Regions from separate parts of the Homo sapiens genome. Here region 1 is linked to region 2. Evidence: fine-mapped expression QTL. A gene starts in region 2. The other region holds a variant in brackets. All regions are shown on one strand. Distances are from middle to middle. Region 1 has its middle 32 kb from the start of TYRO3. Region 2 holds the start of RTF1 (RTF1 homolog, Paf1/RNA polymerase II complex component).

The links. PIP is the estimated chance that this variant, and not a neighbour inherited with it, causes the effect. A credible set is the group of variants that fine-mapping cannot tell apart.
Region 1: its variant is the best candidate, but not a certain one, in a credible set for the expression of RTF1 in whole blood (TOPMed, PIP 0.78).

What each region holds. Positions count from the first base shown.
Region 1 is chr15:41,586,691-41,595,024 of GRCh38, reverse strand. No RefSeq gene overlaps it. Among named protein-coding and RNA genes, the nearest start is that of TYRO3, 32 kb to the right of the region's middle. The variant G/A (reference allele first, on the strand shown) is at 3,645.
Region 2 is chr15:41,413,658-41,421,991 of GRCh38, reverse strand. RTF1 (RTF1 homolog, Paf1/RNA polymerase II complex component) reads right to left here and starts at 4,897. Exons shown (of 18, transcript NM_015138.5): 1 at 4,679-4,897. The coding sequence starts at 4,876. RefSeq lists a silencer at 4,418-5,007 and an enhancer at 5,068-5,167.

The DNA.
Region 1 (8,334 bases), 170 kb before region 2:
CTGAATTCTTTCCTGGGCAAGCTCCAAGAACCCTCTCTTGGGGTCTAGATTTGGACTCCTTTCTGGTAACAAAGCCATTGTTATGAGGATTACATACGTTAATATTTAGAAAGCAATCAGAAAAACAAAATAGGCTGGGCATGGAGGATCACACCTGTAATCCCAGCACTTTGGGAGGCCGGGGCTGGTGGATGGCCTGAGACCAGGAGTTCAAGACCAGCCTGGGCAACGTGGCAAAACCCTGCCTCTACAAAAAATACAAAAACTTAGCTGGACATGGTGGCACATGCCTGTGGTCCCAGCTACTTGGGAAGCTGAGGTGGGAGGATCGCTTGAGCCCGGAGGCAGAGGTTGCAGTGAGATGTGATCATCCCACTACACTCCAACCTGGGTGACAGAATGAGACCCCATCTCAAACAAACAAACAAAAAAAGATGAGTATGTTTATTAAATAAGTTAAACAAAACATATAGCTTCGGGATTAAAAATAATAAAATGGGCTGGGCACGGTGGCTTACACCTGTAATCCCAGCTCTTTGGGAGACTGAGGTGGGCAGATCACAAGGTCAAGTGATCAAGACCATCCTGGCCAACATGGAGAAACCCCGTCTCTATTAAAAATACAAAAAATTAGCTGGGCGTGGTGGCGCGTGCCTATAGTCCCAACTACTCAGGAGGCTGAGGCAGGAGGATCGCTTGAACCCGGTAGGCGGAGGTTTCAGTGAGCCAAGATCGCGCCACTGCACTCCAGCCTGGCAACAGAGCTAGACTCCATCTCAATAATAATAATAATAAAATGTTCAAAGGTATAAGGAAAGCATCTGGTATGTTGTATATGCTTGAACAGAGTCTTAGGAACAATTATGTTACTGAAACCACCTTTGCAAAATTATGACTGAGACAGTGAAAGAGATCTAACTTAACTGACTTCATTTTGCTTTTAACCTCCAAGCTGTCCTTGTCCATTCCTGGGCATAGGCTGAACTAACTTTGGGAGAAGTTTAGTTTGTAGTTTATGGTTTAAACAAAGACGGTAACAGCCCTTTCCCAAAGCAGACCTCCTTCTTGCCTGGGGACTAGACTGCCTTTGTAGGACTAACATTAGTCACAAGATTAGAAATTATGGTTTAGGAGTCATGCAGCTGGAGGCTACAGGATTCTGACCCTCCCTAAACTGCTCCTAAGGTCACTGCTTGAGATATTTTGCAGACCCTGCACTTCATGGATCAGCTGGTCCCACTCAGATCAAAAACTGGCTCATCTGATCTTGTGGCCCCCACCCAGGAACTGACTGAGCTCAAGAAGACAGATCCAATTCCATATCATTTCACCTCTGACCAATCAGCACTCCTGGATCACTGGCTTCCCCCCACCGACCAAGTTATCCTTAAAAACTCTGCTCCCCCAATGCTGGGGAGACTGATTTGAGTAATAATAAAACTCCGGTCTCCCTCACAGCCAGCTCTGCGTGAATTACTCCTTATCCATTGCAATTCCTCTGTGTTGTAGCACTCGAATATAAAATTTTCTGTTTTTTAATTCTCAGCAAGGCAAGGTACTTCTATAGAAGGGTGCGCTCTCACCGATGGAGCAATGGTGGGCGCACATTTGGACAAGGGAGAAGAAGGGGTTCTTTTTTTTTTTTTTTTTTTTTTTTTTTTGAGACAGAGTTTCTGTCTGTCGCCCAGGCTGCTGGAGTGCAATGGCCAATCTGGGCTCACTGCTGCAAGCTCCGCCTCCCGGGTTCACGCCATTCTCCTGCCTCAGCCTCCCGAGTAGCTGGGACTACAGGCGCCCACCACCATGCCCGGCTAATTTTTTGTATTTTTAATAGAGACAGGGTTTCACCATGTTAGCCAGAATAGTCTCAATCTCCTGACCTCCTGATCCGCCTGCCTCTGCCTCCCAAAGCGCTGGGATTACACGCACATGGCCCCTGCTGCTGGGTCATTCCCCTATTGGCTAGTGTTAGACCGCACAGGCTAAACTAATTCCGATTGGCTAATTTAAAGAGAATGATGGGGTGAGCGCTTTGTAGCAGGTAACCGGAATGAGTTAGGGTGGAGCAGGTGATCAGAATGATTCAGGGTGGAGGTGATCAGAATGAGTTAGAGTGGAGTAGGTGATCAGAATGAGTCAGGGTGGAGTAGGTAATCGGGATGAGTCAGGGTAGAGTAGGTAATCACAAAAGGTTGCTTTACGAGGAAGTTAAGTTTAAAAGTAGAAGGCAAAGAATTGAACATACTGACATATTAATTCTTTGAAGAGAAATTTAGAATTCATATTCAACAACTTCCTCCTCTTGCAATTTTTTATGGCTTTCTCTTCAAACTTATTTAACATGTCTTGACTTAGTTGTTCTGCTTGATTTTCCAAAAGAAGCAGCTTCTCTGGATAAGGTGGAGGATAGTTAAGGGAGGTTTTAGTAAGTGCCATTTCTATGAGCCCCTGCACCAACCCAGGATGCATGGTATAACACAGCACCCGACAAGAATAAGTACACCTATTACAGCTACGAGGGAGGAAAGAATTGAGGCTATTATTCCTTTCCATTTACCAAACCACTTCTCTAGCCATCCCGTAAAGGGGTCATTTGCCCCTGAGTTGCTGGCTAACTCATTGGATAGAGCAGTCAGACCTTGCAATGCCTTTGTTATACTTCCATCAGGGGCGGTGTTGTTTGGGATGAAGGTGCAACATCGAGTTTTAATCATGACGCAAACTCCTCCTCTTTTTGCTAATATCATGTCTAAGGCTATCCTATTTTCCTAAGCCATCTGGCTAGTAGCCCCTAATTGCTCAGCTATTCCTTTAACAGCATCTCTAGTGTAGTTAATAAATCCCTGTTGGTTGTAATAGACGTAGTTTATCCAATCTACATTTTTGTTAACTGTCACTCACCAAAATATTGACTCAAATCCTGCAGCTATTTGATTTTGGGCCTTAAATTGATCTGGTATTCCCCATGGGACTCCAACTGTGTCTAAATAGATGTGAGAGTCGAAAGCATAAGGGGCTTCTCTCACTTTACAATGTCTTATTTTTTCTTCCTCTTATTGATGAAATGCCAGGGTAAAAGGGATAGCCAATTGGACTAAAGCACAAGTGCCACTCTAGTTATTCAGTAGAGTGTCCAGTAAAGGTCCACCACAATACCACCACACATCCACTCGGGGATGAACAAGGGCTGACTGATTGGTAAGCTCTTGAAAGTTCTTAAGCTCACTGCATCCCTTCAGGTCTCCAAGGAACGCTAAGTTTCCTCCCTGTCGTGAGAGACACGAAGTGAACTTAGTGTTGGGAGACCGAAGCTGGATGGCCCTCAGGGGCTGACCCACAGGGTGTGGAACTTCAGGATACAGCAGAGAGAGAGCTTGGCATGACTTGTTACCCCAGGCTGTAAAATCCTGGAAAAGAGCTACCATGCAGCCCATGCCCAGTCTGCTGGAGTACCACCCTAGTGGAAAGGGGACAATCTGCACCTCTGGCCTGCCACACGCACAAGCATAACAATTGCTTTTGTTTAACGTGCAGATGGAATATTTGATCCATTCCAACCAGGCATTTACATCTTGGTATCCTGTCTCGATTGCTAAAGTTTGTTTTAAGTCTTTAACTTCTACCATCGCTATCTTGGCCTTGTC[G/A]TTAGATGGAGGAGGAACAATGGTTCCATTGTAAGAGGTTTTAGAAAAAGCTTTAGAAGCAGGTTCAGGTGGTGGGGGATCAAAGAAACACATTTCAAAGAATCCAATAGGTCTGTCCCTGAAACCTCAGCTCCCATACCATAAAACCGGCTGAAAGAAGGGAACTGGCTTAGAAAAAGGGGAGAACTTTGGGGGCTCAAAATAATAACCTGTATAGGGTTGCACTGGTTTAGCTGACAGTTAGGGGGGGCTGTCCCTTTAGTAAAATGAATGTATGGTTTTAGGAAATTATAAAAACTGGTTGGGGCACTCCATCCTTGCTCTTTGGTGGTTCACAGAACATCGGACCAACTACGGCATAAAAGCTCTACATCAGTGGGGCAAGACTCCTGGTTGCCACTGGGGTCTTTATTGAAATCTCCCCGGATTAAATGGTCCCAATTCACTAATGCCCAGTCTGAGGAGAGCCAGGAGGGACAGAGGTACTTTTCTGAAGTAGAGAGCTGTCTTTGACTTAGCAAATCCCTACAGAGTATAACACGGCAAGCATCAAATGCAATAGTTTGAGGTGAACTTGACTTGGTTACGTTAATAACTAGATGGTCAGCAATAGAGCGAGGAAAGAAGAAAAAGTAATAGAATAGATGAAAGAGAGTTAAATTCTTCTTAGCTTTAGTTTGGTAGGGTTTTCCCCTAGGACTATGGCCCATGACTCTGGAGTCCATCCTCTCTCTGCGGTGTGGACTGCGGTTTCAGTCGCGAGGAGCACTAAGTAAGGACCTTCCCAGGCTGGCTCAAGTTTTTCCTCTTTCCAGCTCTTAATGAGGACATGATCCCCAGGCTGATGTTGATGCACCGGGAACTCCAAGGGTGGCGCCTGTGCTAAAAAACCTTTAGTTTTAAGAGAAGAGAAAGTAGAAGATACATCAAGTATATAATTTGTAAGGAATTGATTGGGTCTTTTGTTTCAAAGGTAGGAATATCAGTAGTGGAGTGCAAATAAGGTAATCCATAGAGCATCTCATAAGGAGAAAGACCAATGTCTTTCCGTGGTGCAGTTCGAATTCTCAGCAGGGTATAGGAAGACACTTGGTCCACGGCAACCAAGTCTCTAAGACTGATTTGGTTAGGTGGTTCTTTTGCATCTGATTCATTCTTTCTACTCTCCCTGATGAGGGTGGGTGCCAGGGAATATTGTGTTCCCATCTAATGTCTAATGTTTGGGATAGCTTTTTAATAATGTGTGCGGTGAAATGAGTTCCATTGTCTGAGTCAATATTTTCTATTAGTCCAAACCTAGGTACTATATTTTCAATTAGGGCCTTAACTACATTATTGGCTGTCGCATTTGAAAAGGGATAGCTTCAACCCAGTGAGTGAGGTGGTCTACTACTACTAGTAAATATTTCAGACGACCTATTGGAGGCATTTCTGTGTAATCAACTTGGATACTTTGGAATGGCCTTAAGCCCGGATTCCTTCTCTTGAGAGGTAATCTTTTTATAGTATGTCTATTAGTTTTCTTACATACTAAGCAACTATCTGTAACCTGTTTGGCCAGGGTATAAATTCCTATACAACCATAAACCCTGAGAACTGCATCACACATGGCCTGAGGCCCCCAATGGGTCCCTTGATGTAGTTGGGATAAGACTTCCCTTATAAGGGGTTTAGACAACATTTCTCTCTGGTCTGGCAGTATCCACTTTCCTTCTGAATTCTCTTTAGCACCTATTTTTATTAGTTTCTCTCTTTCAGTGGAAGAAAAAATGGGGATTACAGTAGGAGGAGGCAGGTAGGGAGTTAAGTGAAAAATATGCATTTCAGAAGACACAGCAGCCTGCTTGGCTACCTGATCTGCTAGGTTATTTCCTCAACTTTCAAAAGAAAGGTTTTTCTGGTGTCCGGGAACACGGACAATAGCTATTTCTTCTGGCAACTGAAGATTATTCAATACTTGGGTGATCAGCTCCTTGTGAACAAGGTCTTGACCTTTACTACTAATGAGACCTCTTTCAGTCCAAATTTTCCCAAACATATGGGCCACTACACAGGCATACTTGGAATCTGTATAGATGGTTCCTTCCTGGTTCTGTAAGTACTTTAAGGCTTGGCTGAGTGCAAATAGCTCACATGTTTGAGCAGACCAATTGTTGGCAATTTTCCAGATTCTATTTCTATGAGAATTTCTCCATCAATCACTGAATACCCATTGTGTCTTTTTCCCTCAATCACCCCGGAGGAACTGTCTATGAATAAGTGCCGTCCAGTCCGGAAGGGGGTTTCTCCTAGGTCTGGTCGAACCTTTGTATGGTAATCAATTAAATCTAAACATGTGTGTTCCCTCCATAGATTTGGATTCCCTGTTAGGAAACCTGCTGGGTTGAGTGAATTATCAGAGGTCAATGTTAAATCATCCTTTTCTAACAGAACGGCCTCATACTTCAAGATTCTCGAGTCGGTAAGCCATCTCCCTGCTCTCTGGTTTAAGATAGTTCTAACTTGGTGAGGCGTGCTTACCGTCAATTTTCCTCCAAAGGTTAACTTCCTGCTTTCCTCGACCAGTATTGCCGCAGCCCCGATGGACTGGATGCATTGAGGCCATCCACAAGTGACTGGGTCCAACACCTTTGATAGGAAGGCTACGGGCTGCCGGCGGCCTCTGTGTTCTTGAGTCAGCACTCCTAAAACTACCGCACTGTCCACATTAACAAAAAGGTGGAATGGCTTTTCTAGGGAGGGTAAGGCAGTTATGAGCCTTTCCTTCAGCTTCTAGACTTGATCAGCTTCCTCAGAAGTCCACAGGAGATGGTTCGGCTTCTCCTGGGCAAGTTTTTAATATAACAGTTTACTGTGCAGTGCATGAGTCAATCCATAAGCGGCAGTATCTGACTAACCCTAAAAATTTCCTGAGTTCTTATTTAGTTTGAGGCAAGGGTAGGGACACCATTCCCTCGATTCATTCAGGCCCTATTCTTCGCTTGTCTGCACTTATTAAGTGGCCTAAATATTTAACTTCGGGCTCTACATACTGAAGCTTTCTTTTTGAGACTCATAGCCCCTCAAACTGCAGATAGCTAAGAATATGTGTAGAGAAGTCAGTTACCTTCTCTATATCTTCACCAGATATAAGAATGTCGTCTACGTACTGAAGAAGGCATATTTGTTCTAGTATGACAACTTTTTCTAGTACCTGTTCTAAAATTTGGCCAAAAAGATTAGGAGAGTCTATGAACCGTCGGAGCAAGACCGTCCATCTCGATATTGCTGTTTCCGCCCTGAGTGGCGATCCTCCCATTCAAAAGCAAATATATTTCGGCTATCTTCAGCCAGGGGACATGCCCAAAAAGCATCCTTCAAATCTATTATGGTAAACCATTGATGATTACATGGAATTTTGCTAAGAACCGTGTAAGCATTGGGGACAATGGGGTTGGTAGTCTGGACTATTTGGTTGATAGCTCTAAGGTCCTGTAGTAGCTGGTATGACCCATCTGATTTCTTGACTGGCAGTATTGGGGTGTTATAAGGGGACATACAGGGCTCGAGAAGCCCATCCTTAATAAGGTCTTTGATTATAGGTTTCAACCCTATCCTACCTTCTAGGGGAATAGGGATTGCTTCCTTCTTACTACTTCTCCTGGGGTTTTTAGCTTGATGTGGATCGGAGGGACTTGGAATTTCCCTCGGTTTCCTTTTTTGGACCAGACATTAGGATTAATATATTTTTCATCGGCAGTGGTGAGTAGATTTAATGAGGTGAGGAATCCTCTTGGGCTGACTTGTAGACCTATGCCCAACTTTAACATTAAATCCCTCCCCAGTAAATTAGTTCCTGCTTAGGGGATTAACAAGAACTGAATATAAGCTGAGCGATCAAAATTTATCAATTTATCAAAAAGGTTGTGATAAGTTGGTTCTGTCTAGGCAGGAGGCAAGGTGAACACCTTGGGCGGTTACATTACTGGAAAGGAGTCCCAGTCCAGATCCCAAGAGAGGGTTCCTGGATCTTGCAAAAGAGAATTCAGAGCGAGATCATAAAGTGAAAACAAGTTTATAAGGAAAGTAAAGGAATAAAAGAATGGCTACTCCATAGACAAAACAGCCCCAAGGGCTTCTGGTTGCCCATTTTTATGGTTAGTTCTTGATGATATGCTAAACACGGGGTGGATTATTCATGCCTCTCCTTTTTAGACCATATAGGGTAACTTCTGATGTTGCCATAGCATTTGTAAGCTGTCATGGTGCTGGTGGGAGTGTAGCAGTGAGGACGACCAGAGGTCACTCTCATCGCCATCTTGGTTTTGGTGGGTTTTAGCCGGTTTTTTTACTGCAACTTGTTTTATCAACAAGGTCTGGCCGGCGCAGTGGCTCATGCCTATAATCCCAGCACTTTGGGAGGCTGAGGCCGGAGGATCACCTGACGTCAGGGGTTCAAGACCAGCCTGGCCAACATGGTAAAACCCTGCCTCTACAAAAATACAAAAATTAGCCGGGCCTGATGGTGGATGCCTGTAATCCCAGCTACTCGGGAAGCTGAGGCGGGAGAATCTCTTGAACCCAGGAAGCAGAGGTTGCAGTGAGCCGAGATTGCGCCACTGCACTCCAGTCTGGGCAACTGAGTGACAGAGTGAGACTCCATCTCAAAAACAAACAAACAAAAAACAAGGTATTTATGACCTGTATCTCG
Region 2 (8,334 bases):
CCTGTAATTCCAGCACTTTGGGAGGCCAAAGCCTGAGAATCACCCAAGCCCAGGAGTTTCAGACTAGCCTAGGCAATGTAGTGGGACCCCCATCTCTACAAATGATTTTAAAAATTAGCTGGGTGTGGTGGTGCACACCTGTAGTCCCAGCTACTTGAGAGGCTGAGGGGGAAGGATCACTGAGCTAGGGAGGTCAACGCTACAGCCGTGAGCTGTAATTGTGCCACTGCACTCCAGCCTGGGTGACAGGAGTGAAACCCTGCCTAAAAAAAAAAAAAAAAAGAACCAGTAGTTTTGCCATCTTAAAACCTCCCTGTCAAGTTCTTTTAGTTATACAAGTGCCTTTTTTTTTTTTTTCTTTGGGACAGGGTCTCACTCTGTTACCTGGGCTGAAGAGAAACGGTGGGACCACAAGTAACTGCAACTTCAACCTCCCAGGCTCAAGCAATCCTCCCACCCCAGACTCCCAAGTAGCTGAGACTAGAGGCACGCCACCATGCCCAGCTAATTTTTAAATTCTTTTTTTTTTTTTTTTAATACAGAGTTTCACTCTTGTTTCCCAGGCTGGAGTGCAATGGCACGATCTCGGCTCACCACAGCCTCCACCTCCTGGGTTCAAGTGATTCTCCTGCCTCAGCCTTCTGAGTAACTGGGATTACAGGCAAGCACCACCATGCCTGGCTAATTTTGTATTTTTAGTAGAGACGAGGTTTCTCCATGTTGGTCAGGCTGGTCTCAAACTCCCAACCTCAGGTGATCCGCCCACCTCGGCCTCCCAAAGTGCTGGGATTACAGGTATGAGCCACTGCACCTGGCCAATTTTTAAAGTCTTTGTACAGATGAGGTCTCACTTTGTTGCCTACGCTGATCTCAAACACCTGGGCTCAAGTGTTCCTCCCACTTTGGCCTCCCAAAGTGCTGAGATTACAGGGCATGAGCCACCATGCCCAGCCTATACATGTACGCTTAATTTGGAAGTACTATGGCAGACACAGGAAGCTATTTCTCTTCTAAATACTTATAGTGTGTTACTAAAAAGATTAACCTGCATATAGGCAGTGATCTTAATCACTAACATAAATCATAATTACTTGAGCTATACCTGTTACAAATGCAGAGTCCAGACCTCTATCCCCTGAGAGTCTGATTCAGTAGGTCTAGGATGGGAACTGCTGCACCCTCTAAGTCCCAACCTACATTTTAAATAAGCAACCCAGGTGGCTTCTGACACAGAGGTCTGCCCCTACCACCAGGAAAAACCAGCCTAGAAGGCCCATATATCTCACCTTCAGTAAGGAATAAATTGGAGGTAAAATTTTTGACATAATGGCTCAGATTCCCATCTGAAAAACCCAGGGACAAAAGGCCTCCTTACGAACTGCATTCCAATCCACACTAGATACTCAGTGATCTGTCATGGTTTGTTCCTTCCACAAGTACCATACGCTAGACAGCAAGTCTAATGTTATACCCCCAGTGAAGACTCAGAACCAGATGGAGCAGCACAAGGTATTTGGGGCAGGAAAGATCCAGAATGCATTAGGATTCCTAAAGACCCCCAAGCAGCACTGACAGTGAACTTGTGCTAAAGGTCTTTCGTGAAAATGTCTAGAGGGCAGAGATCTTCCTCTTTGATTATTCTGAGAGTCTGGCATAGTGCTGAACAGACAAACTGAAGGCATCAATACCCCTGTTAGGATGTGCAGGGAAAGGGAATTTTGATCTAGTTCCCATCTGATAACAAGAATGCAAATAAGAAGCTGAAGGGGAGGAAGTTAAATTTGTTGTTAAAATGTATTAGGTATTACACATTTTATGTTAATTTCCTTTTACAAATAGATATTTAGAATTGGATTTAAAATTGCAATTCCGGCCAAGCACGGTGGCTCATGCCTGTAATCCCAGCACTTTGGGAGGCCGAGGTGGGCATATCACTTGAGGTCAGGAGTTCGAAACCAGCCTGGCCAACATGGAGAAACCCTGTCTCCACTAAAAATACAAAAAATTAGCCAGGTGTGGTGACAGGCACCTGTAGTCCCAGCTACACGGGAGGCTGAAGCAGGAGAATCGCTTGAACCCAGTGGGCGGAGGTTGCAGTGAGTTGAGATTGTGCCACTGAACTCCAGCCCAGGCAACAGAACAAGACTCCGTCTCAAAAATAAATAAATAAATAAAGTGGCAATTCTCTGCAGTTCCCACTTTGAAAAAGCTTTTTGTGGATCAGGTGAAATATCTCTACCACGAAAAGAAGCACTCAACTTATTTTATTCATCAGAATTCTGTGGGAAACTACTAAGGACAATAATTTGCAGTTCAGTTCATTCATCACTTGAACAGATGTCTTGAGAGTGCTTTACCAAGAAATCCCCCCAAATAATCCTTTTAATGTATGTACCAATTTCCTCTAAACTATCCAGTGTACTTTATAAACACGAACTCTAGCACCATGAAAAATGACTGTGAAACATTATCATTTTGCAGTATGAAAAAAATTTAAAACTAACAGATTGAGTTGGTATAGTGGAAACAGTATAGGCTTTGTACTCATGCAGATCTGGGTTCAAATCCCAATGCTACCACTTACTAGTTGTGAGTTATTTAACTTTTTCAACCTCCATTTTCTTTATGTAAAGTAGAGGAAATAATTCCAAATTTACCATAATGTGAAAACTTGAAAATCTAAACAAAACAATTAAAGTGCCTACTCTAGGCACTATATAAATGGTAGCCAATGTTGTTATTGTCTGAAACATTCACATTTGTAGATGAAAAGACAGAAAAAAATAGATTCTACTCCTTCTAATTGCCAGTCTAAAATTATCTACCAATCAAACTTTTACAGTCGAAATTATACTTTTGATATTTTTGTAAACTTCAGGAGCCTTTCAATGAGAACATTTTCAATTCCTACCCCAAAACAAAGTTTCTATTCCTTAGATAGTCTTACACAGGCCCCATTACTTCTCCATCTCCCTACCACCATTTTCAAAGCAGTCTTCTTTCTACAGCACCTCCTCAATCCTTTTCTTCTTAAAAGTCCTCCCCTTGGCGGAGCTTGCAGTGAAGCCAAGATCGCACCACTGCACTCCAGCCTGGGCGACAGTGCGAGACTCCGTCTCAAAAAAAAATAAATAAATAAATAAAAAGTCCTCCCCTTTTATGCCTTAATACTTTCTTTTTCTTTCTTTTCTTTTTTTTTTTTTTTTTGTGATGGAGTTTCGCTCTTGTTGCCCAGGCTCACTGCAACCTCCGCCTCCCGGGTTCAAGAATTCTCCTGCCTCAGCCTCCCGAGTAGCTGGGATTACAGGCATGTGCCACCACGCCCCGCTAATTTTGTATTTTTAGTAGAGATGGGGTTTCTCCATGTTGGTCAGGCTGGTCTCGAACTCCCGACCTCAGATGAGCCTTGGCCTCCCAAAGTGCTGGGACTACAGGCGTGAGCCACCGCGCCCAGCCCCTAATACTTTCAAACTGAGACCTCTGGCTTCATATAAAAGACCCCCAAGAAGCCATTCATAGAAAAACTTTACAATTAGCAAATGCTTGCACTGCCATCAATTTTTACAAACACTTGATCTTTACAATAAACCAATTAGATACACAAGGCTGATGTTACATTTTCATTTTACATTTAAGACCAAAGATATATAGCTAGAAAATAGCATAAGCCCAGCCTAGAATTCAAATTTTCAGACTCCAAGTTCAATACTCTTTCTACTCAAAAGCTACTATCTCTTGCATATTCTTTCTTTACATCATTTGCTCATTAAACAGAAAGGAGACCATCTTTGTATCGCCTGGTATCACTAGAGCACTGCTACAAAGAGCAGATTCCTCCCTACAATGTTTTCTAGAGTATATAAACAGTTCAACCCCAAGACACTGAGGCCAAAAGTTACTTTCAGTGCTTCCTGCAGTCTTCAAGTAAGAAAGAATTCTGGGATGCTGCGTGAAAGGGCCAAGAGGAGGCCTGGGCTATGCACAGTCCCTCCATGTCGCCCTACATAGTTCTCTATTTCTTCCAGTATCTGCCCTCTTTCCTCCACCCAAGAGTGTTTTTTTGGGTCTGACACCTCAACAAGGGCCCTTCTCAAACACAAACGACCCTAGTCGCCAAATAAACTCGTGCCCACAGCTAAGTCATCCTTGGCAAGCATGGCAGAGGCTCCTAGGAACATTTACGAGTGTCCTTCCTCTGTCCACATCCCTTGTCCGAAAAACTTCCATCTTCCAGAGTCCGGATCTTCTTGGCCCTCGCCCCCAACTGCTCGACGCGCACCCTTGCACCTCCTCCAAAACCTCCCAGCCTCCCAGGTTGGCGGGCGATACTTCCTATCTCTCCCAGCCCGGATCTCCTGGACTACAGCCCGCCGCCCCGATCTGGCCCCGGAAGATCGCGGCCCCTTTCGCTACCCCCGAGCCCGAGGCCCAACGGCCCGGTCCCTGCCCCGCCTCCCCGCCCAAGGCGCCAAGTCCTCGGGGCTCCGTCTCCAGGCCCGGGCCGGTCTCCAAGGCCCCGCACACTCCAGGAAGACGGGAAAGGGGCTGTAGTGGTGCCCAGGGCACGGGGCGAGCTGGGCGCTCTGGTAGGAAGGCTCCAGGCCCGGCCGTCTCCGGCTCCCGCGGCCCCGACAGCCCTCTGGCTCCGCCGGCCCGCGCCTCCGCGGCCTGCCCTCACCTGATCCAGGTTCTCGTCGCTGCCGCTGTCCTCTGTGTCCGAGTCGATCACGACGCGGCCTTTCCGCTTCTTTACCATGGTGGTCCCCCGGCTCCCACGCCGGCCGCCGCCCGGACTCCCCTCTTGCCCGCCTGCCAGTGGGACCGCCACTGCCGCCGCCGCCGCCGCTGCTCGACCCACACAAAGGCGACCGCGCATGCGCGCTCCGCTCCGCCCCCCTGGCCCCGCCCCCTGCTCGCCGCACGCCGTTCGCAGGTCGCCGGGTGCCCCGCCCTGCCCCGCCCCCGACGCAGCGTGAGAGGCGGGGCCTTCCCCCGTCGCTGGTTCCCGGCAGAGAGTGGTGGTGGCTTTACCCGCGACTGCCCTGGAGTCCTTGGCTGTATCTCTGCTGCGGAGCCGAAGTTTGGTGGGCTCTCTTCCTATCGGGGGCTGGAGCCGCAAGGATCCAGGTTCTCTCTGAGGGGGCTCACGTGTCTACCTACTTTCAAGCTGTCCAACACTGATGGCGTGTACTTAAGGGGCCGACGGCCTGGAAGACATAAGTCGCCTGGACCACGCGGTGGACACCGGTTGGGGGCTGGAGACTGCCGACCCGGGCTGTGCGAATGACAGCTGAGCTGGGACCTGGAGAATGCATCTGAATTACCCAAAAGGAGAGTAGAGTGTTGCATGCAGAGAACAGCGTAGGCAAAATGGCCCGGCGATAATAAAGTTAGGTTCGGAGAACTGAAGTTAGTTATGGCCAGAGCAGAGATTGTGGGTGGGGATAGGCGACAGACCAGGCTGGAGAAGGACACGGCGACTGCCTCACTCAGATCCTAATAAGTAAGCTGAATTAGGGAGTTTGAACTTGAGTATTGAAAGATTTTAAACTGAAGAACCACATGATTTGATTTGTGTGTGGTTTTGTGTTTTAGTAGAGACGGGGCCTCCCTATATTGCCCAGGCTGGTCTCGAACCCCTGGGCCCAAGGGATCCTCCTGCCTTGGCCTCCCAAAGTGCTGGGATTACAGGCGTGAGCTACCGTGCCCAGCCTGATTTGTGGTGGTGTTTTTTTGTTTGTTTGTTTGTTTGTTCGTTTGTTTTGGAGACGGAGTCGCTCTTGTTGCCCGGCCTGGAGTGCAGTGGCAGCTCACTGCAACTCCGCTTCCCAGGTTCAAGCGATTCTCCTGCCTCAGCCTCCTGAGTAGCTGGGATTACAGGCTCCTGCCACCACGCCCGGCTAATTTTTTTTTTTTTTTTTTTTTTGAGACGGAGTTTCGTTCTTGTCGCCCAGGCTGGAGTGCAATGGCGCGATCTTGGCTCACTGCAACTTCTGCCGCCTGGGTTCAAGCGATTCTCCAGCCTCAACCTCCGGAATAGATGGCATTACAGACGCCCTTCACCACGCCCTGCTAATTTTTGTATTTTCAGTAGAGATGGGGTTTCAGCATGTTGGCCAGGCTGGTCTCAAACTCCTGGCCTCCGGTGATCCGCCCGCCTCAGCCTCCCAAAGTGCTGGGATTATAGGCATGAGCCACTGCACCCAGGCCTGATTTGTGTTTTTCAAAGATTACTCTGACCGCAGTATGGCGAATGGACTAAGGGCAGGGAGATCGCTTGGATTGTTGTTGTCTTCTTGGCAAGAGATGATGGTGTCCTGACCTAAGGACGAAGCTGTGGGAATGGAAAGAAGTGGATGGACTCTGGATAATTTGGAACGTAGAATCCCCAGGATTTGGGATAGGGGTAAGGGAAGGAGTGCTCCCAGATACCTATTGATGTTCAGATTCTAGCTTAGGAAGCTAGTGGCAGGTGAGCCCTTCATCAAAAAAATGAAATACAAGAGGAGAGAAGAAGGTTTTGGGAACTGGTGTGTATAGGAAATAAGTTTTTATACTTAAGTTTGAGGTCAGCTGATAAAAAGGTCAGCTCCAGAAGTTATTTCCTTTAGTGATTAGGAATATAAAGTAGGGGCCGGGCGTGGTGGCTCACACATGTAATCCCAGCACTTTGGGAAGCTGAAGAGGGCCGATCACCTGAGGGCAGGAGTTCAAGACCTGCCTGGCCAACATGGCAAAACCCCATCTCTACTAAAAATACAAAAATTAGGCCGGGCACAGTGGCTCACGCCTGTAATCCCAACTTTGGGAGGCTGAGGCAGGGGGATCACAAGGTCAGGAAATCGAGACCAGCCTGACCAACATGGTAAAACCCTGTCTCTACTAAAAATACAAAAATTAGCCGGGCATAGTGGCGTGTTCCTGTAATCCCAGCTACTTGGGAGGCTGAGGCAGGAGAATCACTTGAACCTGAAGGCGGAGGCTGCAGTGAGACGAAATCGTACCACTGCACTCCAGCCTGGCAACAGACGTGACTCTTTCTCAAAAATAATAATAATAATAATAATAATAATCTGGACCGGGTGCAGTGGCTCTTTCCTGTAACCCCAGCACTTTGGGAGGCTGAGGCAGGTGGATCACGAGGTCAGGAGCTCAAGACCAACTTGGCCAAGACAGTGAAACCCCGTTTCTACTAAAAATACAAAAATTAGTCAGACGTGGTGGTGGGCGCATGTATTCCCAGCTACTTGGGAGGCTGAGGCAGAGAATTGCTTGAACCTGGGAGGTGGAGGTTGCAGTGAGCTGAGATCGCGCCACTGCACTCCAGCCTGGGCAACAATAGCGAGCCTGTTCTCAAAAAAAAAAAAAGGAAAAAAGAAAATAATCGCACCACTGCACTTCAGCCTGGGTGACAAAGTGAGACCCTGTCTCAAAAAAATAAATAAATAAAACAACCTAAATAAAGTCCAACTACCTCTTTACCCTAGAAGAGTTTTCCTAAGATACAGCTCATAGACTTTTCTCCCCCGACATATCCTTGGAACCATGGCCAAGGTGACCCCGAATCACCAGCCCAGCTTCCGTATGTCTAGCCACCCTGAAGCCTGTGGTGCCCTTCTGGAGGACCCTCTTTAAATGTGTTAATACACAGTACTGCTAAAAAGGAAGCCATGACATGGTCAGTGGCCCTTGACTGGAATTAATAAAAGTATGTTCTTTGAGTGAAATCTGTAGATTTTGATCTTTCTGCAAGGGGTCTTCTAATGATTCACGTACTGAAGTTAGTCCGTATTGAGTCTAATCAATGTCTAAATTTAGTGAATAAACGTTGCTTTAAACTCCCTCTTGAGTCAGCTTCCCAGAGAACCCAACCAGTCAAAGTTTCCAATTAGTAAAATGAGGATAATGATAGTGTCTGTCTCTTTGGGTTCTTATAAGGTTTAAGTTTACAAAGCAGGCATGGAGGCACAGGTCTATGGTCCCAGTTACTTGGGAGGCTAAGGTAGGAGGATCGGTTGAGCCCAGGAGGTGGAATCCATCCTTGGCAACTTAGAGAAACCACGTCTCAAAAAAAATAGTAAGTTAGGCCAAGCCGAGTGTGGTGGCTCACGCCTGTAATCCCAGCACTTTGGGAGGCCGAGGCAGGCGGATTACCTGAGGTCAGGAGTTCAAGACCAGCCTGGCCGACATGGTGAAATCCCATCTCTACTAAAAATACAAAAAAAAAAAAATTAGCTGTGCATTGTGGCAGGCGCATGTAATCCCAGCTACCTGGGAGGCTGAGGCAGGAGAATCACTTGAACCCAGGAGGCGGAGTTGGAGTGAGCTGAGATC